Homo sapiens: one gene and its partners. The main gene of each other region encodes a partner of the protein of the gene in region 4 in a complex. Each region holds a gene or a part of one and is shown on either strand. Other genes may lie near its edges.

Region 1 (7,037 bases), on a different chromosome or scaffold from region 4:
GGGGAGAGAATGTTCTTGGATAAAACACACTGGGTACCAGCCATCAGAACTGTAACAGTCCAAGCAAAAATATGCATGTATAAAATATTTTCAAAGAGGTCTCACTTCTAAACATATAATCAGATAAAGCAGGCAATAACTCCTTCCACATCATCTCCTCATCTGTCATCTTCACACTGCGGATAATCACACAGCTCCTCAGTCAAGTACCTATCCAGCCCAGCTAGTAAGTCTGTTCCCTCAGATCCTCAGCACGTGATGGTAACACTACTTTACATTGATTCGTCTCTTTTTTTCAGAGACAGGGTCCTGCTATGTTGCCCAGGCTGAAGTGCAGTGGGCATTCACAGGCTCAATCATTGCGCACTACAGCCTCAAACTCCTGGGCTCAAGCGATCTTCCTGCCTTGGCCTTCCAAGTAGCTAGGACTATGGGTGTGCCACTGAATGCAGCTTGACACCGATTCCCCTTATAGCGTGACTTCACTAATGTATATTGTATTTCAATTCAAAAGTAAATTATTTAAGAGCAAGAAAAGAAAAAGGGGACGAGAACTAATATTCGCTGTCATGTGTTTTATTTTTTTTTGAGACAGGGTCTCGCTGTCACTCAGGCTGGAGTGCTGTGGTGTGATCATAGCTCACTGCAGCCTTGACCCCTGGGCTCAACTGATCCTCCCACCACAGACTCTGATAGCTGGGACTACAAGCGTGCACCACCATGCCCAGCTAAGTTTTTGTTTTTGTTTTTTTTTTTTTTTTTGAGACAGAGTCTCGCTCCGTCACCCAGGCTGGAGTACAGTGGCACAATCTCGGCTCACTGCAAGCTCCACCTCCTCTGTTCACGCCATTCTCCTGCCTCAGCCTCCCGAGTAGCTGGGACTACAGGCACCCGCCACCACGCCCAGCTAATATTTGTATCTTTAGTAGAGACGGGGTTTCACTGTGTTAGCCAGGATGGTCTCGATCTCCTGACCTCGTGATCCGCCCGTCTCCGCCTCCCAAAGTGCTGGGATTACAGGCGTGAGCCACTGCGCCCAGCCAAGTTTTTTATTTTTAGTAGAGATGAGGTCTCATGACGTTGCCCAGGCTGGTATCAAACTCCTGGGCTCAAGCTTCAGCCTCCCAAAGTGCATAAGCCATCACACCTGGCCCACTGTTATGTATTTTATATGTTAAACACTGTCCAATTTTATATAAATGTGTTAACAAAAAAAAATTACTTGATTCTCCATTTCCCCAATGTGGTAGGTGTTATTACACTTATTTTACAGATGAATATAAAGTTCAGAAAGGTAAAGTGACTTGGGAAGACCAGAAACTCAGTGACTCGCTGAGTCATGTCTCAGTGATGCCGTGAGGTCCACGCTGTGCCTCTCACAGCCTGCTGCCCCTTCAGGCCTTCTATGTGTGCACACTCGCCAGCTCCAGCTGCTGTGGAGGGAGACTTTCACAGGCTTTTTTGACATGAACCAAGCTGAGTGGCTGATAAGAGGGAACCCCATGGAAGGACCTTGCTAATAATATTTTAAGACCAAAGTCTGGCCTGTCTGTGGCTCTTAAGGAAATAAAAGGAAAATAAAGAGCATGGTGAACAGCATCATTATCAAAGGGGTTCACCTCTGTACCTCACTTTGCACCACTAATCAGAATACCAGGAACTTTCTAACATGCTGTACCCATGAAAAAAAAATATTTCAGATTGTAAATGACAAGAAATGGTCTTGTATGGTTATATTTTTAAATGGTAACCAAAGAATTGCATTTTATATCCTTTTCTTATGAAGAGGAGAACGTTTTGACAAGCATCTTACTGTACTGCCTACCACTTACTGCATCCTTATAAACCATATGCATATATTACAAATCAGCAATATTTTTCCTTCTTAATCCACATGTGTTAGATAAAAAGTGAAAAGTAGTGTTCTCAAGATTTGTTATTTTCCTTTTAAAATGTTTATAATTTATATTGTTTGCATAAAACTAAATGAGTTTCTTTTTTTGCTTCAAATAACCCAGAAAAGAAACCCAAAAATCTATAGTAATATAGTAATTTCAGCCAGAAGTCAGTATCAAAACAACACAAAACAAAACAAAAAAAACACTAAATTGTTTTTCATACTTCTTCACTACCTAATCTAAACCTGTTATCTTAGTTACATTTCCTTGCTAGTATTTAAATATGATAACCATAGCACTTTAAGAGAATTTTATTATGGAATATTTGCATGCTATAAAAATAAGACAAGAAGGACCAAATAGTTAAGTGTAGATTATGATCAAAGTCCTAGTTTTGGTTCTGGGCTGTCGGTGTGTTAGTATCATTCAGTAGAACCCACTGCAGCTAAGATCCAGAGCACCTAAATGATGAGCCACCAATTCACAACAAATCCCTACCACTTAGGTCCAGTAGCTGTCCAGTTTTTCAGATGAGGCAACCCTGACACACAGACTGTACAACAACTTATGCCAAATTTAAACATACTTCCTGAGACAAATAGGTAACACTTCAAAATGCTATTAAAGTAGAACCGATTCTAAGAAATGAATTGCAAGAAATTGGAACCCTTGGGCACTGCTGATAGGAAGCTTAGATGGTACAGCCACTGTGGAAAACAGTGTGGTGCTTCCTCAAAAATTAAATAGACAATTACTATATGATCCAGCAATTCTACTTCAAGGTACAGACCCAAAAAAAAACACCTGAAAGCAAGAATTTGAACAGAGATTTGCACATCGATGTTCATAGCGGCATTAATCACAAGAGCCAAAAGGTTGAAACAACCCAAATGTCCATCAGTGAGTGAATGGATAAACAAATGTGGAATGTACATATATTATTCTGCCTTAAACACACAACGAAACACACAACGAAATCCCGACACAGGCTACAACATGAATGAACCCTGAAGACATCATACTAAGTGAAGTAAGCCAGTCATAAAAAGACAAATAATGTCCAAGTCCATTTATAAAAGGTACCTAGAATAGACAAATTCAGAGAGACAAAAAAAGGAATGGTGGTTGCCAGGGGCTGGAAGTGGTGGAGAATGGGGAGTTATGTTTAATGGGAACAGTGTTTCAATTTGGGAGGGAACAAAAGTTCTGGAGAAGGATGGGGATGATGGCTGAATAACAATGTATACTTAATGCCACAGAACTGCACACCTTTACAATGGTCCATTTATGTTATGTATATTTTACAATAGAAAATCATAAGTAAAAGTAATTGCTGGCATCATTTGCATTGTCCTGAAGTATACAGGTTTTAGAATTTTTTACAAAATGAAAGAACTTATTGCAACTTTTCCAACTCTTATAAGAAAAAATATCGTGTACTTGTGTTAGAGACCAGAAATTACTTAAATATCTCCTTAGAATCTTAGTGAACTTAGTGATCAACATCTAAAATTATGCAGGAAAAAAGGGAACTCTGCAATTGGACTGACCATTATACCTGATTAGCTATCATTTTATAATCAAAAGTTCTATATGATCAAACAATAAACATTGCTCCTCATGATAAAAAACAGAAGTCTACACAATGTCACTGAATACTCACGATTCACTCACTGTTTCCAGTATAAAGCCATGGCATTCAACTCATGGCCTGAATAATAAGCGAGGAGGAAAAGAGCTACCCCAATTTTTCTTTTTGTTTCAAATGTTTTCTAATTTACCTAATATCCCATTCTCATATAATAGGGCTGTTGAAAGGCTTCTCTTTGGCTTCACTGTTTTCCTCTACTTGAACTTTACAAAGGAGATAAATGCTTCAGACATGACCTTGATTACACCGTGACTCGGCTTGGTAATGTCAGTTGCAAGTTTGTTGGTTTAAGGGTTAGAATAATTTGTAAGTAACAGTAAATGTTTCTATTGTGTTTCCAGAATTTATAAAGTTGACATAGCATGGAAAGCTAAGAGGATTAAAAATCCATTAAAATAATCACTAACATATGAAGAAGAAACACTCACAAACCTTCTTGAGAAGACACAATGGGTGGCAGGTAATCAGGAATGTATTCTTTTCTTTCCTCTGCATCTTTACTTCCAGGTTGAGGAAACTGAAGTACATTGTTCTTGCTAACAGGAAATGACGGAATTTGGTGTGGGAAGGTGACAGGCTCAATGTTGTGAATATAGTCTTCTAGTTCATGTAGACTAACCCCCATCAGCTGGAAAGCTTCACCAACATCATCCAAAATTGGGTCTGTTCGGCCATCTGAAACAAAGTGAAAAGCAAATCAAATTATTTGAAGAAATCCCACGAATATATTTTTAAATATTAAGAAAAAGTAGTAAGTAAATATGCAGCTCAGAATCAAACATTTTAACCTAGTTATTGGAAAGAATTTAATAGATTTTAAAGAGTATCACAGAATCATGTTTAAGCTGATTATTAAAGTCAAGTTTAAATATAATCAGACAACTAGCCAGAACACCACAGAAAAACCACATTCATGATTAGCTATTATAGAACAAATTTCAAAGTAGTTTACAGATGATCAAAAGCATCTGGAACAGCACCTGACACACAGAAAATGCCCCAAAAATAATAATAATAAAATAGTGTTTTGTCTTTTTTTTTTTTTTTAAGAGATGGCATCTTAGCTGGGCGCGATGGCTCACGCCTGTAATCCCAGCACTGAGAGGCCGAGGTGGGCGGATCACAAGGTCAAGGGTTCGAGACCAACCTGGTCAACACGGTGAAACCCCGTCTCTACTAAAAATACAAAAATTAGCCGGGCGTGGTGGCGCAGGCCTGTAATCCCAGCTACTCAGGGGACTGAGGCAGGAGAACTGCTCAAACCCAGGAGGCGGAGGTTGCAGTGAGCCGAGATCGTGCCACTACACTCTAGCCTGGGCAACAGAGCAAGACTCCATCTCAGAAAAAAAAAAAAAAAAGAGATGGCATCTTGCTTGTTGCCCAGGCTGAAGTGCAGTGGTATGATCACAGCTCCTTGCTGCCTCAAACTTCTAGGCTCAAGCGATCTTCCCCTCTCAGTCTCCTGAGTAGCTGGGACTATAAGCACATGCCACCATGCCTGGGTAATTTTTTTTTTTTTAATTTTGTAGAGATGAGTTCTTGCTATGTTGCTCAGGCTGGTTTTGAACTCCTGGCCTCAATCAATCCTCCTGCCTCTGCCTCCCAAAGTGGTGGGATAACAGGCATGAGCCAATGTGCCTGGCCTTTTTTTTTTTTTTAATCATCAAATAAGTAGTGTGCTGTGCTGACAAAGTCAATGTTGGTTACATTTCCTCTGTTGTTCCCTGATGCATCTGCAGAATCTTAAACAGTGGCTGGCACATAGCTGGCACTCAATAAATACCTATTGAATGAATTATACCATTAAATCAATTTTTAAAATCTAAGAATATTTACAAAGAAGGCTTAGATCATAAAAGTTTGGTTTTTGTTCGTTTTTTGAGACAGGGTCTCACTCTGCTGCCCAGGCTGGAGTGCAGAAGGGCAATCATGGCTCACTGCAACCTTACCTTCCCAGGCTCAAGCCATCCTCCTACCTTCACCTTCTGAGTAGCTGGGACTACCAGTGCACCACCAACATGCCTAGCCATAAAGATAATTTATCTATAAATTTTCAAATGTAATTAGAAAACACCACATAAAACAGAGATAAAAAGTTAGATATAGAGATTTTTTTCTTTACAAAAGCAAGTTTTTCTTATGCCTATTCTTAGCAGAGCTTAAGGTCTCTACATCTTTAAAAATGTCTATGAAAATTCCATTTTCTGATTTTCAATAGCCTAAAGGATTTAACTGAAATCCTGACTTTTTAACTGAAATCCTGAAATTTGATCACTTCAAACTCAGTATGTCTGAAATTAAATCACACTGTAAAATGAAAAAGAATCCAAATATTGCTAGAATTGGACGCATGTGTAGTAATGCATACAGAAACCTCTGGAAGGATATTCAGCCAATGGTTAACAGTTCGAGGGGTGGAAGCTGCAGTAGAGGCGAGGGCTGTGGTGGAAGCAGGAGACTGACTTCTAACTCCACATACTTCTGCAGTCTTTGATTTTTTTTTTCTATAAGTATGGGTTACTTCTGTGATGCATTAAAAAAAGAAAATAAATAAAACGAATACTCTTCTTCTTACTGAATGTAAACAGGCATTTCATCTCTTCTATTCCTATTAAAGCTATTATTACTCTCTCAGTCTAAAAAATATAATAATCTTAAATTCCTCCATATGCTTTGCAGCCTCAAACCAAAACCTGGTAGTTTCTAACCCTGTCCCCGTCCCCTTCGGCCACCTTTTTTTTTTTTTTTTAACCATGATTTCAGATTTTTTTCCTTTCTCTCTATTCTTACTGTCACTATCTCAGTATAGTCTCAAGTTCTGCCCACTTCAATCTCTTATGCACATCACTGTCAGTACAATTTTCTTAAAATACCACTTTAATCATACTATTCCCCTACTTAGGAGTATGCAATGTTTTCTACTACATGTTTTAATTCTTTTGTCTAGCTTTCAAGTCCTTCCATAACCTGATCTCACTCTGTTGAACATTTTACTCAGACACCCTTGGAATGAACTAGCTGCATAGGGAGCTGAACACCTTACTGGTACTTTTATTATGCTTAATCTCACCTGGACAGCTTAGTTTATGTGATTCTCTAAGCTGGAATACTCTATACCTTTATACAACCATACTTCACAGCTCAACTCAAATCTTATCTTTTCTGTGAAGTAATCCTACCCCAGAATCTATAGCCTACAGCCATCTCTCCTCTTATCCCTTTTACATTTACTCCCTGTACCATGCAAAAAAATATTACAGTACTAGTGTTGAAGAGTCAGTCTGAAAGATTTAGCACCTGCTTTCAGTACATGCCAACATATTTAACATATAATGTGACACCGACAGAGACATCTGCCCTTGAATGCTTGGAGACATTGTTACCCTAAGGCAATTCTTAAGTTCATTATTTGTTCATTATTTGAATTAATGGTAACTTCTAATACTTGCTTTAACTTGAGAACATTTCTTTTAGAAGAAACAAACACC
Region 2 (7,442 bases), on a different chromosome or scaffold from region 4:
CCCCATCTCAGGCCAGGCACAGTGGCTCACGCCTGTAATCCTAGCACTTTGGGAGACGAAGGTGGGCGGATCACTTGAGGGCAGGAGTTCAAGACCAGCCTGGCCAACATGGTGAAACCCTATCTCTACTAAAAATAAAAAAATTAGATGGGCATGGTGGCGGGCACCTGTAATCACAGCTACTCGGGAGGCTGAGGCAGAAGAATCACTCGAACCCGGGAGGCGGAGGTTGCAGTGAGCAAAGATCTGTGTCATTGCACTCCAGCCTGGGCAACAAAGCAAGACTTCTTCTCAAAAACAACAACAACAACAACAAAAAAAACAGACGAAATCCTTATAATGTCCTACAAAGCCCTTCAAAATTACCTTCTCCCCATTATATCTCTGAACGCCCTTCCTTCTTCCACTTTGATCCAGACACATACATTCCTTCTGGCTGCTCCTTAAACTTGCCAGGTATGTACTTGCTTAATAGCCTTTGCTGCATTCCCTCTGCCTGGAATGTTCTTCCCAAATATCTAATTGGCTGCCTACCCTGACCACCCTATTTAACTCTGCACTCTGCCCTCAGAGTGGGGGCAGCCCACTTTTTCTTTTCCATAGCATTTAACATCTTTTGGGCATGGCGCAGTGGCTCACGCCTGTAATCCCAACACTTTGGGAGGCCGAGGTGGGCAGATCACGAGGTCAAGAGATCGAGACCATCCTGGCCAACATGGTTAAACCCCATCTCTACTAAAAATACAAAAATTAGCTGGGCGTGGTGATGTGCACCTGTAGTCCCAGATACTCGGGAGGCTGAGGCAGGAGAATTGCTTGAACCCAGGAGGTGGAGGTTGCAGTGAGTAGAGGTTGTGCCACTGCACTCCAGCCTGGCAACAGAGTGAGACCCCGTCTCCGTCCACCATCTAGACAGGGCTCTTTTTTTTTTTTTTTTTTTTTGAGCTAGAGTTTCACTCTTGTTGTCCAGGCTGGAGAGCAATGGCGCGATCTTGGCTCACTGCAACCTCCGCCTCCCAGATTCAAGCAATTCTCCTGTCTCAGCCTCCTGCGTAGCTGGGATTACAGGCATGCGCCACCACACCTGGCTAATTTTTGTATTTTTAGTAGAGATGGGGTTTCACCATGTTGCTCAGGCTGGTCTTGAACTCCTGACCTCAGGTGTTCCACCCACCCTGGCCTCCCAAAGTGCTGGGATTACAGGCGTGAGCCACTGTGCCCGGCCGACAGAGCTCTTTATTATGTTCACTGATGTATTCCAGGAGCCCAGCCTGGGACATCATAAATATTTGTGAAGTAAATGAATTAGTTGTAAGGCTTAGAGATATTGGTGCTCAGTAAATACTTGGTATCACTATTATTAATAGGTCATAGGCCCAAGCTTTGAGCCTACACTGTAGTTAAAAGCAAACTGGGCCGGCCGTGGTGGCTCACGCCTGTAATCCCAGCACTTTGGGAGGCCGAGGCGGGCGGATCACTAGGTCAGGAGATTGAGACCATCCTGGCTAACAAGGTGAAACCTCGTCTCTACTAAAAAATAGAAAAAATTAGCCAGGCATGGTGGCAGGCACCTATAGTCCCTGCTACTCGGGAGGCTGCTGAGGCAGGAGAATGGCGTGAGCCCGGGAGGCGGAGCTTGCAGTGAGCCGAGATCGCACCACTGCACTCCAGCCTGGGCAACAGAGCCAGACTCTGTCTCAAAAAAAAAAAAAAAACAAAAAAAGCAAAGTGGAGCCAGGTGCAGTGGCTCACGCCTGTAATTTGGGAGGCCAAGGCGGGAAGATCACCTGAGGTTAGGAGTTCGAGACCACCCTGGCCAACATGGTGAAACCCTGTCTTTTTGTAAAAACACAAAAATTAACCAGACATGGTGGCGGGCGCCTGTAGTCCCAGCTATCTGGGAGGCTGAGGTGGGAGAACCGCTTGAACCAGGAAGCGGAGGTTGCAGTGAACCGAGATCGTGCCACTGCACTCCAGCCTGGGCGATAGAGAGAGACTCCATCTCAAAAAAAAAAAAAAAGCAAATTGGAGCCAAGAGAGGTAACTCACCCCAGTAATCCCAGCACTTTGGAAGGCAGAGGTGGGGGGATTGTTTGAGGCCAGGAGTTTGAGACAGCCTGGTCAACATAGTGAGACCCCCATTTCTGCAAAAATTAAAAAATTAGACGGACCTGGTGGTGTGAACCTGTCATCCCAGCTACTTAGGAGGCTGAGGCAGGAGGATCGCTTGAACTGAGGAGTTGGAGGCTGCAGTGAGCCAAGATGGTGCCACTGCACAACAGCCTGGGTAACAGACGGAAACCCTGTCTCAAAAAAAAAACAAAAAAAAATTAAAGTGGCACACTTGCAGTTGGACATTAGGAAGATTAACATATCAATACTGCTTAGGAGTAGTACAGGTAGGGTGGGGCCGTGCTGGAAGGATGGGAAGAGGGAGGCCGAAAAACAAATTGGTTCTTTTCAAACCATCCCTGATCTCCTCCCCGACTTTTATAAGTCTTATCTATAGGGAACACAACTATTCGAGACATACTCTGTGCCTGGCGCCGGGTTTACAAGAGGGGGTCGTGTCCCACTTCCCTGGCGAACTCCTACGAATCCTTCAATACCCGGCGGTACCCTCTGCCAGTAAAGGCTCATAAAACACGCTACAGTCACAGGATCTCCTCAGATCAGTGGAGGCGGCAGGAAGGCGTCCCAGGGAAGGGTTAACTTAAGCGAGATCCCAGCAGAGAAGCAGGTCGAAGATCCCCGGGCAGCGCGAAAGGAGGTTCAGAGAGCCCACCCCATCTCCTGCAACATCTCTCCAATGCAGGCACACACACGGGGTCCCCACGAGCACAGACACACAACCAACCGTCCTCTTTCCAGTCCCCACAAGGGACCTTCAAAGGGTCTCCTCCGGGGTACCACTCAGACCCGCCCCCGCCACCCGAGCGCGGGGAGCAGGAAAACTCTAGCGGCAGCCGAGACGCTGCTCACCCGGCGCTCGGCGCCATCTTGGCCCCGCCCCCTCGTGGGAGCAGGTCCTGGCAGAGCCTAAGAGCAAGTCACTGCCCCTTCCCCGTACCAGAATAAGTCCTCTAGGCTCGCAGAATGAAATTATATTTTAAAAGTTTGTTTCTACATCTATATATAAGGAGCACTCCCTCTTGGTGTAATTACTGCAATTTATTCCTTCACTACCCGGCTGCCAGGACCTTCAAGAGGCGCCACAAAACGGAGGCAGGGAAACCCGTAGCAACGAGGCCCCACCCTTGTTGGGCTGATCCTGCGCATGCGCCGACCTTCCTCGGCTGGATTTAAGGTTGCCGCTAGCCGCCTGGGAATTTAAGGGACCCACACTACCTTCCCGAAGTTGAAGGCAAGCGGTGATTGTTTGTAGACGGCGCTTTGTCATGGGACCTGTGCGGTTGGGAATATTGCTTTTCCTTTTTTTGGCCGTGCACGAGGCTTGGGCTGGGATGTTGAAGGAGGAGGACGATGACACAGAACGCTTGCCCAGCAAATGCGAAGGTATTTGAAGGGGGTAGCCCCTATAGGCATCGCCCGGCCACACCTCCTTCTTCTAGGCCGGACATCCTAGCCTGTATTGGGTGGGTCACCCGACCTCCTTGAAGGCTTGAGGGAGGTTCTGGTGGAGCTTGGCTGAATTTGGATGGGGTCAAGGAAGCGAACGTGTAGTGCCACCTCAAACTGCATCCAGAGAGAGCCTGCATTTTTTTGGCTGGCTTGGAACCCCCCGCCCGCCAATGGATTGTGGGAATTGTAGTTCAGGGACCATCGGCCCGGGACTGCCAACTTTTAGAGCATCTTCAGTGAGTGTTTACCTCATGTCACCAGACCTTAATCTGCAGAGGCTGCAGGAGCCGGGTGTGAGGCTCAGGCCTTGTGGACATCCGCTGCCCTACCCTAGCATAGACGCTCCCAAATTACAGGCCCCACACCCCGCTGAGGGGGTTTGAGGGTGAGTAATTCAGCCTTTGAAGCTCATAAACAAAAGGAAGCCACACAACTAGGAGAGTGTCCCCATCCGGTGAGACTTTGCAGACGGTGCGTACTATATGGATTTTTCAGCAAGCAGCGCCTTCCATAGCTGCACTAGCGTGGGGCCCAGTTGAGAAAGGGGGCTGGCCCTGATGCCCTAGTTTGCTGCCCTCCTGACTTTACGTTTCTTCCCTGGATTCCTTTTCTCTTCGCTTCACCCCCTCAACTGTATTCCAGTATCATGAAAGGCAGTCATGACAGTCTCATGACTTGGTCCTCATCTCTGTCTCCTTTCACCTCCGTGTGCCGCTCTTCTCCCCTGACCTGTCAATCTTTTTAAACAGACTTAATCACCTAATTGTATCAGTCCTTGCTTTAACACCTCTGCAGGCCTTCTATCAGAATACAGCCAACGGGCCTGGGCACAGTGGCTCACATCTGTAATCCCAGCACTTTGGAAGGCCAAGGTGGGAGGATCACTTGAGCCCATGAGTTCAGGCCCAGCTTCACCACAGCTTGTCATCCTTGGTTTATCTGTCCCAACTACACTGACAGAGACCTGTAGATAGAGATAATAGGTCTTATTGCTGTCTATATTGTTAGTATGCATACAGAAGGAGCTCAATAAATAACTGCAGGATAACAGTGAATACTTATACAGTGCTCACTATGTGCCAGCCTTTATATATGTTGATTTATTTAATCTTCATCACACTCCTATGAGGGACATACTATTATTATCCAATTGTATTAATTTTATATATATATATATATATATATATATTTTTTTTTTTTTTTTTTTTTTTTTTTTTTTTTTCTCTTTTCAGACAGCGTCTCATGCCGTTGCCCAGGCTGGAGTGCAGTGGTGCAATCTCGCTCACTGCAACCTCCGCCTCCCGGGTTCAAGCGATTCTCCTGCCTCAGCCTCCCAAGTAGCTGGGATTACAGGCGCCCGCCACCATGCCCAGCTAATTTTTGTATTTTTAGTAGAGACAAGGTTTCACTATGTTGGCCAGGATGGTCTCAATCTCTTGACCTCGTGATCCACCCACCTCAGCCTCCCAAAGTGTTGGGATTACAGGCATGAGTCACTGTGCTGGCCTATTTATTTTTAATGTATTTTACTTTTTTTAAGATGGAGTCTCCCTTTGTTGCCTGGGCTGGGGTGCAGTGGTGGGATCTCAGCTCACTGCAACCTCCACCTCCTGGGTTCGAGTGATTCTCCTGCCTCAGCTTCCCGAGTAGCTATTACAGGTGCGCACCACCACACCTGGCTAGTTTTTGTATTTTTAATAGAGATGGGGTTTCACCATGTGGGCCAGGCTGGTCTTGAACTCCTCAAGTGATCTGCCCGCCTCAGCCTCCCAAAGTGCTGGGATTACAGGTGTGAGCCACCACTCCTGGCCTATTATCCCATTATAAAGATGAAGAAACCGGCCGGGCGTGGTGGCTCACGCCTGTAATCCCAGTACTTTGGGAGGCCAAGGCGGGCGGATCACAAGGTCAGCTGATCGAGACCATCCTGGCTAACACGGTGAAACCCTGTCTCTACTAAAAATACAAAAAATTAGCCGGGCGTGGTGGTGGGTGCCTGTAGTCCCAGCTACTCGGGAGACTGAGGCAGGAGAATGGCGTGAACCCAGGAGGCGGAGCTGGCAGTGAGCCGAGACTGCGCCACTGCACTACAGCCTGGGCGACAGAGCGAGAGTCCGTCTGAAAAAAAAAAAAAAAAAGATGAAGAAACCGAGGCACAGCAAGCAGGAAGATTGCCACACAGCTGCTAAATGGCTGAGCCAGGATTCCAACCCAGCCAGTCTGGCTCCATAGTCTGCACTTGTATGCTCTGCTGCCTCAGGTCATCTGCAGAATGAATGGCTGGTGTGTTTGTCTTTTACCTCCCCCCGGACGTTTCTCCTCCCCACCAGTGTGTAAGCTGCTGAGCACAGAGCTACAGGCGGAACTGAGTCGCACCGGTCGATCTCGAGAGGTGCTGGAGCTGGGGCAGGTGCTGGATACAGGCAAGAGGAAGAGACACGTGCCTTACAGCGTTTCGTGAGTCCTTCGTGCTCCTCCCCTTTCCAACCCCCAACGGAGCCCTGGGAGTTCCTACAGCATCCAGGGAATCTTTGTTTCCTCTCTTTCCACAGAGAGACAAGGCTGGAAGAGGCCTTAGAGAATTTATGTGAGCGGATCCTGGACTATAGTGTTCACGCTGAGCGCAAGGGCTCACTGAGATATGCCAAGGTCAGACCCTTCCCCAGGGCAGGACCCCACTTCTCAGATACAAAGATCTGTATCCCCTGAGGCCCTCCAGAGGTTATCTGCCCATCATCTCACCATCATGGAACTCACCCTTGAATCTCCAGTAGTTGACAAAACTGAAATGGCAGAAAGGGGAAGGGAGGGGTGGGGTGGTGAGCTGGGCTGATGCCAAATTCTTAATCTCTCAGGGTCAGAGTCAGACCATGGCAACACTGAAAGGCCTAGTGCAGAAGGGGGTGAAGGTGGATCTGGGGATCCCTCTGGAGCTTTGGGATGAGCCCAGCGTGGAGGTCACATACCTCAAGAAGCAGGTAGGATAAGACACTGCACCATCCAGGGAGGTGAGAAGGGAACCTGAGAGGGGAGCTAGGTTCTAGGGTTTGACTATAGGGGATGTCTACCCCTAAGCATGGGGAAGGGGCCAGAGTGAGGACTGTGCCATTGATTAAAGTGGGTCCAGGAGCGGTGGGGTGCGGTGGCTCACACCTGTAATCCCAGCAATTTGGGAGGCTGAGGCAGGTGGATCACCTGAGGTCATAAGTTCGAGACCAGCCTGGCCAACAAGGCAAAACCCCGTCTTTAATAAAAACACAAAAGTTAGCTGGGCGTGGTGGTGCACGCCTGTGATCCCAGCTACTTGGGAGGCTGAGGCAAGAGAATTGCTTGAATCCAGGAGGTGGAGGTTGCCATGAGCCAAGATCGCACCATTGCACTCCAGCCAGGGCGACAGAGCAAGACTCCATCTTAAAAAAAAAAACAAAAACAAAAACAAAAAAAAAGAAATCATAATGAGCCGGGTGGAGTGGCTCACAACTGTAATGCTAGCACTTAGTGAGTCTGAGGGAGAAGGACTGTTTGAGACCAGAGTTAGAGACCAGCTTGTGCAACATAAGAGACCCCCTTCTCTACAAATAATAATAATTTTAAAGAATTTTTTTTTTCAAGACGGAGTTTCACTCTTATTGCCCAGGCTGGAGTGCACCGGCACCATCTCGGCTCACCGCGACCTCCGCCTCCCGGGTTCAAGCCATTCTCCTGCTTCAGCCTCCCGAGTAGCTGGGATTACAGGCCCCTGCCACCACGCCCAGCTAATTTTTTGTAATTTTAGTAGAGACGGGGTTTCATCATGTTGGCCAGGCTGGTCGAACTCCTGACCTCAGGTGATCCACCCGCCTTGGCCTCCCAAAGTGCTG
Region 3 (7,037 bases), on a different chromosome or scaffold from region 4:
GACCCAGAGATTTGTAAAAAAAAGTGGGAGCAGAATGGTCCGTCAGGAGCTCCCTGAATTGCCTGTGAGCTCTAGCAAGGCCTACACCCTCTGTGGTGACTGCATCCAGTCTCCCAGCTCTCAGTGCCATCTCTACGCCAACAGCTCCCTGGAGTACAATGCCAGCCCTAACCTCTCCCGACTTCCAGGCTCATGCAGCCAGCTGCTCACTCAGCATTTCCACTGGGGTATCAGGTAGGCAGTTCAGACTTCAGGCACCTAAGTCTGAATTGGGGACCTTCCCCTGTGGTGTAAACGGCGCTTCTCAGTCCCTCCCATCACAAGTGATGGCAACTCCATCCTTCTAATGGCTCGAGTCACAAACTCTGTGGTCATTCTTGCTTGTTTTCTTTCTTTTATTTTTAAACAGGGTCTCACTATGTTGCCCAAAACTGGACTCAAATTCCTGGGCTCAATCTTCCTGCCTCAGCTTCCCAAGTGACTGCAACTATGGGCATGCACCACCACACCTGGCACACTCCTTTTCCTTCACTGACATCCCATACCCAATCTGTTAGCACAGCCTCTTGGACTTACCTTCAAAATTCAGGCAGGCACTGACCACTTCCACCACCTCTGTGGCAACCACTCTACTTGGGCCCACCACTGCCTCTCGCCTAGGCTATAGCGACAGCTTCCTGACTGATCTCTCTAGTCCGTTCTTACCGAGCCATCAGAGTGGTGCTTTAAGAAGCTCAGAAACATCCCTCCTCTGCTCCACGCCCTCCCACAACTCCCATCTCTCTTAGTTAAAAGCCAGCTCTTAAAATAGCCTACAAGGCCCTACCCAATCTGACCCTCCCTCCCACAAGCCACTCACTATTCCACAGGGCCTTTGCACTGCCCATTCCCTCTGCCAGAACACTCTTCCCCAGATATCCACATGGCTCACTCCCTCACCCATTTCAAGCTCCTGCTCAGATATCCCCTTCTCAGTAATGCCTACTCCGAGCACCCCACTTAAAAACTGAAGACTCCTCCTCACCCTGGATCTTCCCCTACTGTTTTTCCCCCACACAGCACTTTCATTTCTGATATACTATGCAACGATTTAGTCATATATTGTGTTTGGTATCATTCTCCCACAGCCAAACTCTGCTCCTAAAAGGCAGAGGTTTTCTTTGTTTTTCTCACTGCTTTATCCCAAGCAGCCAGAAAAAATATCTGGCACATACTAGGTGCTAAATAAACACTGGTTGAGTGAGTGACTGGTATATTTTTCATAAAAGAGTAAAAGCTTAGATATCTGGGTTGGCTGCAGAGAGCAGCTGGTTCAAATGTGTGAGAAAAGAATCTATTATACATGAATTTAAATTATACATGAATTTAAAATGAATAGCTCCTTTATGTTCAAGTACATGGAGAAACTAGAACCAGGTTAAATAATGTACTGCCTAACAACAGACCTTGAGAGGTGCACTCTCATCAAGAGATAAAATAATAATTTAAAATACCTGTTATTGGCTGGGCGTGGTGGCTCACGCCTGTAATCCCAGCACTTTGGGAGGCTGAGGCGGGCGGATCACGAGGTCGGGAGATCGAGACCATCCTGGCTAACACGGTGAAACCCCGCCTCTACTAAAAATACAAAAAAATTAGCCGGGCGTGGTGGCGGGCGCCTGTAGTCCTAGCTGCTGGGGAGGCTGAGGCAGGAGAATGGCATGAACCCGGGAGGCGGAGCTTGCAGCGAGCCGAGATCACGCCACTGCACTGCAGCCTGGGTGACAGAGCGAGACTCGGTCTCAAAAAAAAAAACAAACAAAAAAACCAGTTATTTACTTTGCTATAACAATGTCTGTAAATGGTAAAGACAGAAAACAACCTAAGTGTTCATGGGGGACTAGATAAATTAAATGGTTACATCCATACAATGGAAGATAAAGTAGCTGTGAGGAACGATGCGCCTCCTCCCTTACAGATGTGGAATGACCGCCAAGATACAGCCAGGAAAAAAGCAAGAAGAGAACAGTTTGTGATCTGCTGTTTCAGTTCAAAATAACAATTTAAAAAAATGTCTCTAGAAGGCTACATAAGAGGCTGGTGAGACAGTTGCTCTGTGGGAGGGAAAGTGGGTAACAGGGAACAGGATGGGAGGGATTGTCACCATACATCTTTTTGCACACTCTGCATTTTGAAACATATGATTGTATTTCCTAGTCTAACAAAATAACATTAGGTCCAACTGACTGTAGTAAATTGTCACTAGAATCTTTGTCTTGGAGTCATTTGATTTTATTTTTCACAGAAGGGCATATGGTTAGATAGCCTAAAACAGCAGGGGAGGGAGCAGTGTGTGCTAGGAGCTGCCACATGCCAGGCACCTGATAGATACCAGCTCTGTCTCACGCTCCCCCTGTCCCTTGAGGTAGGTGTTTCTGTTTCTACTTACAAGAAAATAGACTAAGGCGTAAAGTAACACAATCACGGTCACACATGTGGCAAGCAGCACAGCCTGGATTTGAAGCTAGGCAAGTCTGACTCTAAGACTCAGGCCTTCCTACACTCCTGCTGTCTGCAACCCTGGCTTGGCCTCATGGTATTCAAGAGTCCTCAGGCGGTTGCTGACACTCTTTAGGTTCAATTACCACCATGACCTCACATCACTACGGGACCGTCAGTGAATGCATGTCCAAGCCCTTTAACTATATTGTACTTACAAAGGTATGATGACGTTTGTTTACATGATTCCTCTTTCTCATAAGGTGAACCTCAACTTAGTCCATGACCCAATCACCATATCTCAGCCCAAATTAACAGAAGCGTACAATAACAATTTCCTCTGCTTTATTTAAAGCCATGGTCTCCCAGCCCTAATTCTGAAAGGAATAATTCAATATTTAAAAAAAAAAAAAGTATATCCAGGCCGGGTGTGGTGGCTCACGCCTGTAATCCCAGCACTTTGGGAGGCCAAGGAGGGTGGATCATGAGGTCAGGAGTTCAAGACCAGCGTGACCAACACGGTGAAACCCCGTCTCTACTAAAAATACAAAAATTAGCCGGGCGTGGTGGTGCGTACCTGTAATTCCAGCTACTCAGGAGGCTGAGGCTGGAGAATCGCTTGAACCCAGGAGGCGGAGGTTGCAGTGAGCCAAGATCTTGCCACTGCACTCCAGCCTGGGTGACGGAGCGAGACTCTATCTAAAAAAAAAAAAAAAAAAAAAAAAAAAAAAAAAGTATGTCCAGGCAAATAAGACCTTCAGCAAATAGAGATGACACAGGCATATTCCACTAGCAACCCAGGGTGGCTGGCTGCCATTTGGGGTATCACATCTTAGAGAACATAAGGGATGCTCAGTCCAACTACAGCCACTAAGGCATCCAAACTAGTGCTGATTTTAAAGGATGGTTGAATATGGCAACCTGACTATATAACCCTATTAGCCTTAAGGGCATTCCAGCTTCTGGCGGTTCTGCGATTGTACTTGGCACTTTCTCCAAGGGTGCAGGAACAAGAGGGGGCTCTTATCCTTTCACTCGCTGAGTATGACACACCGGTGAGCAGAAAAGAAAGTATACCCTAAAACAAACTAGGACTAGAACACCTCCTTGCCCACCTTTGTCTCTGAACCCACATGTTGTCTCCTATCCTGGGTATGAAATGTCCAGAAGAAGGCTAGTCCCTCCATTTGGTCACGGGCCCATCCCCTCTCGTCTACCAAATGACATCATTCCCAGACTTTTCTTTCTCTCCTGTATCCATTTTCCCTTTTGACTAGATCATTCCCAACAGCATACAAACACGTTATTTCTTTTATCTTAAAAAATAAAAACACGAAACACCTCTCTTAATTCCTTCATTTTCCCCCTTTTAGTTACCACTGCATCACTCTCCCTCCCTGTACTGCAGGAACACCACACGACTTTCTGTGCCAATGGAAATGTTCAATATTTGCACTGCCTAGTAGAGCAGCCACTGGCCGTATGTGGCTATCAGACACTTGAAATGAATGTGGCTAGTGAGGTTAAGGAACTGATTTTCAGTTCTTTTCTTTTGAGACAGAGTCTTGCTGTGTCGCCCAGGCTGGAGTGCAGTGGCGCGATCTTGGCTCACGCCAAGCTCCATCTCCCAGGTTCACGCCATTCTCCTGCCCCGGGCTCCCAAATAGCTGGGACTACAGGCGCCTGCCACCACGCCTGGCTAATTTTTTTTTTGTATTTTTAGTAGAGATCGGGTTTCACCATGTTAGCCAGGATGGTCTCGATCTCCTGACCTCGTGATCTGCCCACCTCAGCCTCCCAAAGTGCTAGGATTACAGACGTGAGCCACCGCGCCCGGCCTTTAGTTTTATTTCATTAATTTAAATTTAAATACCTACACGTGGCTAGTGGCTGCTATAAGGGACAGCACAAGTCTATACTCACTGACTCCTCTTCTCTCCTCCCATTCTCTCTGAATTTACTCCAGGTCTTCGCTCTCATTCTTACTGAAATGGCTCTCATCAAGGTCACAAATGACATCCACACTGCCAGATCTAATGGTTGAATTCTCAGTCCTCCTACCATTGGAGCCACCCACAGCTTTGGACACAGCTAATTGCTCTTTTCTCCCTGAAACACTTACTTCCCTTGGCCTCCAGGACACAGCCCTCTTCCAGTTCTCCCACCTCCATGCTGGTTCTTCCTCATCTCTTCAAGCTCTACACACAGCAACAGCTCCAGGACTCAATGTGCCTCCTCTTCTTATCCTCACTCATCCCTGGAAGAGCTCATCCACGCTCATGTTTTTAGACACGACCTACAGGCTGCTGGCTCCCAAATACGCATCTCCTGCCCTAACTGCTCCTCAAACTCCAATTATATATCCAATTCTTCACCTGACATCACCGCCTGATGTCTAACAAGCATCTCAAACTTAACACATCTATGTTTAAGACACGAACATCAACTCCTGACTTCCCCCACACACCTGTTCTACCCGGTGGTTGTTCCTATCTTGGCTGAAGGCAATTCCATCTTTCCTATTGTTCAGGCAAAAAACCTTACCGTTTTCTTTAACTCTCATATCTACTCTATCAACTGGCTCTGCTCTGAAAGTGATCTAGAATCTGACCAAATGATCTAGGTGACCACATCTCCTTATTTTTGCTCCTCCTACCATCTCTCAGTTTACTGTGACAGCATCCTAACTGGTCTCCCTGCTTCTGCCTGCCCTCTATAGCCCATCCTCAGCACAGCAACCTGACTGACCCTGTTAGCAAACCTACCTTGGATCCTGACCCTCCTCTGCTCAACATCTCCAGTGGGTCCACCTTACTGAGTAAATGGCAAAGTGTCTAATCTAACCTTTAAGACCCTGTAAGATCTGACTCCCCGTGGGCCCTCTCGGACCTCATCCCCTACTGTTCTCCTCCTTGTTCACTCCACTCTGGCCACCCTGATGTCCTTGCTGTTCTTCAATACAACAGGGGAGCTCCTGCCTCAGGGCCTTTGCATCTGCTGCCCCTGCTGCCTAGAATGGCTCCACCCCCAGACATGTCCATGCCTTGTTCCCTTCCGGTCTTTACTCAAATGCCCCCTTCTCGGTCACTCTACCTAATACTGCATCCCTCCCATTCCCATCCCCACTTCCTATCTCCTCATTTATTATTTTTCATTAGCCCCATGAGGACAGGGAATTTTGTTTATTTGGCTTCCTACTAATATCCCAGCACCTGGAACTGTATTTGTTGAATGAACGAGTGAATCCCCAGGACACGGATGTGTCTCTAAGCAGGAGATTGGGTCACATCTGGATCATCACGCAAGCCCTTATGCAGGCCCCTAACAGAAAGCCAAAGAGACCTGAGGTCGATCATGTCCAGGTCCCAGGGTGACAGACTGAGGGCAGTGTGCGACAGTTTGGGGGATACTCTGAGGTAGGCAGAAGGTGGAACCCACCATGCTGATATGAAGAGCAAGGTTCTCTGTGTCTGTCTGTTCATCCTGCTCCGAGGAATCTGTCTCTTCCATTTGTTGCATCTCCAGTTCAGACGGAAGAAGAGCTGTCAGGTAGGGGATGGTGAAAGGTCTGGCAGCAATCACTGGCGAATTGGAAGAGAGGCATGAGTCCACTGTCACAGAGACCTCGCAGCTGGCTTAGAGTCCTAGAGCCTCACAACAAATCAGTGAGCAGCACCAGAAGATAATACTAGCTAACTCGCTCCAAGTACTTACACAACAGGCCAGGCAATGTTCTACGGGCTTTACTCATGTTATCTTTCATCCTTGCTCCCATCCTATTAAGTACGATTAGGCACAGAGAGGTGAAATGACTTTCCCAAGCATGCTAAAAATGGCAGAATGGGATTCTAACTCAAGCAGCATGACTTCAGAATCTACTTTTTGCCAAGTACAACTGAGATAAGATGGAAATGAGGCTATAGATAGAATCCTAGCAACACATAAGTTTTGAGATCCTGCACCCAAGGTCAGTTAAACCCCTCTAAGCTTCACTTCCAGAGCAGGAATATTGATTCTTTTACCCTGAAGGACTCAAGTCCAAAGGCTGGATTTGAGCACTCTGCATATATGCATGTCCACTGAGCTGTAAGACACTCTGGTCAATGAGAGTTCTAGCTCTTCCAAAAAGCAATGAGGATGAGAGGAAGAAATTGAATAAAAAATAACATTAAAAGAAAGAAGGCCGGGTGTGGTGGCTCATGCCCATAATCCTAGCACTGTGGGAGGCTGAGGCAGGAGGACTGGTTGAGCCCAGGAGTTTGAGACCAGCCTGGGCAACATGGTGAAATCCCGTCTCTAGGAAAAATAAAATTAGCCAGGTATAATAGTGCATGCCTGTAGTCCCAGCTACTAGGGAGGCTGAGGTGGGAGACTCATTTGAGTCCAGGAGGTCCAGGCTGCAGTGAGCTGTTTGTGCCACTGTACTCAAGACTGGGCGACAAAGTGAGATCCTGTCTCAAAACAGAAAAAGAAAAAGTCTCTGTGTGTACTTCTATGGTAGAATGTGACTGTTAGAAAATACTCTAGAATTGGCTGGGTGTGGTGGCTCATGCCTATAA
Region 4 (2,755 bases):
ACTGAAGGACATGACCCAGAGGTCTGGAAGGCGCCTGGTTTCTTCTGCATGATGGTGAAAACACCAGGATCAAAGATAACAGCAACTAAGAAGAGATGGGCACCTGCACAGACATGCCTATCCTGAGGACAGGGGCCTACTCCCATCCTTTCTCAGGGACAGGGACAAACACAGCTTTCTCCAGGAGTTCCAGAAGAGCAGGTCAAAAAGGGTTTTTAGGCCGGGCGCGGTGGCTCACGCTTGTAATCTCAGCACTTTGGGAGTGCGAGACCTGTCTGACCAACACAGTGAAAACCCCATCTCCACTAAAAATACAAAAATTATCTCGGTGTGGCGGCAGGCGCCTGTAACCCCAGTTACTTGGGAATCTGAGGCAGGAGAATCGCTTAAACCTGGGAGGCTGAGGTGGCAGTGAGCCAAGATCACATCACTGCACTCTAGCCTGGGTGACAGAGCTAGACTCCGTCTCAAAAAAAAAAAAATTAAAAAAAAACAAAAAAAACCAAAAAGGGTTTTTAGGCATATAACATTGCCAAAACAAGGATGCCTCTTCAGTTGAGGGCCGTGAGAGAAGGTCACCCTACTCAATTCTTATGGCCGAGAAGCTGGACTCAAACTCCTGCTGATGTTATGGCCTCCCTTGGGGTAAAATGATGGAAAATCCCTGAGTTTTTCTCAAACACCAAAATGAATAACGATGCTGCCACCTGCTGACTAGAGAGCTACAATCCAGGCTTGCTTGTCCTGACTCCCTCTGGGATTTCAAAGGTACCCTGTCTTTCGATTAATAACTTCTTTATTCTGGAAAAGCAAATGAAAGTCATATTCATATAAACACTGACATTACAAAGTACAGGGAAAAGGGGAAGGGAGAAGGAAACAAAACCCTTTACAAATCCTGCTAATACTGTCTTACCCAAAAAGACCATAATGCTTTGTCCCATATTCAGTCACTTATATAATAAACCACAAATAAAATCTTCTCTGGAAGATACATTGCTCCTCTTTGAGATGGCAGGGAAAAGGGACCGGAAGTTGGGGTAGGAGGCTTTATTCTTTTGGCAGATCCTCTCAGTCATTATAGATATTGCTGCACTGTTAATAAAAAATATATGCTTCTCTGTAAAGCATTAAAAAAAAAAATCCAAGGATGAGATGGCTGAGTTCTCAGCTCAAGTATCTCCAAATACATTGCTGTCCATTCCCTGACCTTTCCGTGTGTTATTTCTTGGTTGTTTTCCGGATCAATGCCATTCTCTGAAAGGAGAGACAAATAAGCAGTTATACAGCAGCAGCTGGAGTCAGGAGCTTTCTGGAACATTCTGTGTGGCTAGCAGGCCTCATGGTCTACACTGTAGGCCGCAGCCCTCAGAGACCTGCAGTCACAAGGCATCTCAGTAGATTCCTTTTAACCAGAGAGCAGTCTGCAAGGCCCCAAGAGATGTTTAGATGGGCTAGTGGACCCATTTCATCCACCAAACTGCTCTAGGCTAGCAGAATGGCAAAAAAGTTAAAAGCAGGAGAAAGTGACAGCTCTTGAGTTTTGGTGACTTAGAGAATAAGCTGGCAAAGCATGTGTTTTCTTTCTTTCTTTTTTTTTTTTTTGAGATGGAATCTCGCTCTGTTGCCCAGGCTGGAGTGCAGTGGCATGATTTCGGCTCACTGCAACCTCTGCCTCCCAAGTTCAAGTGATTCTCCTGCCTCAGCCTCCCCAGTAGCTGGGATTACAGGCACGTGCCACCACGCCTGGCTAATTTTTGTATTTTTAGTAGAGACAGGGTTTCACTACATTGGCCGGGCTGGTGTCAAACTCCTAACCTCAAGTGATCCACCAGGCTCGGCCTCCCAAAGTGCTAGGATTACAGGCATGAGCCACTGCGCCTGGCCAAGCATGTGTTTTCTGGGGTCCCCTGACCCCAATCTTTTCTCCAATGATGGACACAATAGGGAAGGGGCCTCAATTTCAAAGTGTTGCCACACACAAAGGGAGCTGACATTTCACATCTCATGACCTGCATTGAAGGGAAACTGAAGACTAACAACTTCTACCACAGTCCATCATGGAAACACTCAGATCATAGGTTTCATGATCTGAATTCTTTTACTATTACTAGCTACTAGCCAAATTAACAACTTACTTTGTTCATTCTTTTTGACCAAATACCAATATTATGGCATTTGTCGACTAAATAAATAGGGCTGAAAATGGTTAACTTGGGAGCACAAAGTGACAGTCCATTGTTTGCAGGGACTCTCTTCTGAACAGTGCAATCTTTCCATTCAGGAAACTGGTGGCTTCCCTTTAGGGCTTGCTTCGTGAGCTTTACAAACACCGGCTCCAGAGATACCAGGCTATGGCGAAGCAGGGGCACTCAACCAGGACTGCCCAGTTGTGCCTGCTAAGCTTGGAAAAAGCTCACGTTTCAAATCAGAGTAGCCACTTAAGTTAAGACAGAAAGGATAACAGCCTTGTCAGAGGGAGGCCAACACTGCTGTTGGACTGACCAAAGATGGGGATGACTTGCTCCACAGCAGAAGTAGTATTCTCACACTGACTCCTAGGTTCCTTGTTCAGAGGGAACCTTGTTCAAAGGTAAAACCAGGACACAGGCCAGAATGTCCAGCACGGCAGCCTGGATACTACCTCTCAGAACAAGTACAGCACATTTTTGCTTTCTTTAACCTGCCCTCTCTTCATAGGACCATATATGGTGTTGCAATCAGCAACAATGAAGGAAGATTTCATTAAGGAGGT

What was found.
Region 1: TAF12 (region 4) and TAF3 share a complex: the UniProt entries of both Homo sapiens proteins name them as parts of the TFIID basal transcription factor complex.
Region 2: TAF12 (region 4) and TAF6 share a complex: the UniProt entries of both Homo sapiens proteins name them as parts of the TFIID basal transcription factor complex.
Region 3: TAF12 (region 4) and TAF8 share a complex: the UniProt entries of both Homo sapiens proteins name them as parts of the TFIID basal transcription factor complex.

The regions. Positions count from the first base shown.
Region 1 is NC_000010.11:7,821,505-7,828,541, reverse strand, and holds part of TAF3 (transcription initiation factor TFIID subunit 3), read right to left. Parts: intron 4,225-7,037; coding exon 3,982-4,224; intron 1-3,981. UniProt on the Homo sapiens protein: The TFIID basal transcription factor complex plays a major role in the initiation of RNA polymerase II (Pol II)-dependent transcription.
Region 2 is NC_000007.14:100,116,347-100,123,788, forward strand, and holds the start of TAF6 (transcription initiation factor TFIID subunit 6), read right to left. Parts: upstream 3,013-7,442; 5' UTR 2,858-3,012; exon of another isoform or gene 2,534-2,857; intron 2,304-2,533; exon of another isoform or gene 2,129-2,303; coding exon of another isoform or gene 2,050-2,128; intron 669-2,049; exon of another isoform or gene 256-668; coding exon of another isoform or gene 168-255; intron 1-167. Other genes in the region: CNPY4 (protein canopy homolog 4 precursor), read left to right, coding at 3,399-3,516, 5,913-6,039, 6,135-6,231, 6,438-6,560. UniProt on the Homo sapiens protein: The TFIID basal transcription factor complex plays a major role in the initiation of RNA polymerase II (Pol II)-dependent transcription.
Region 3 is NC_000006.12:42,067,487-42,074,523, reverse strand, and holds part of TAF8 (transcription initiation factor TFIID subunit 8), read right to left. Parts: intron 6,060-7,037; coding exon 5,917-6,059; intron 3,178-5,916; coding exon of another isoform or gene 3,056-3,177; intron 1-3,055. UniProt on the Homo sapiens protein: The TFIID basal transcription factor complex plays a major role in the initiation of RNA polymerase II (Pol II)-dependent transcription.
Region 4 is NC_000001.11:28,602,318-28,605,072, forward strand, and holds the end of TAF12 (transcription initiation factor TFIID subunit 12), read right to left. Parts: intron 1,258-2,755; coding exon 1,222-1,257; 3' UTR 533-1,221; downstream 1-532. UniProt on the Homo sapiens protein: The TFIID basal transcription factor complex plays a major role in the initiation of RNA polymerase II (Pol II)-dependent transcription.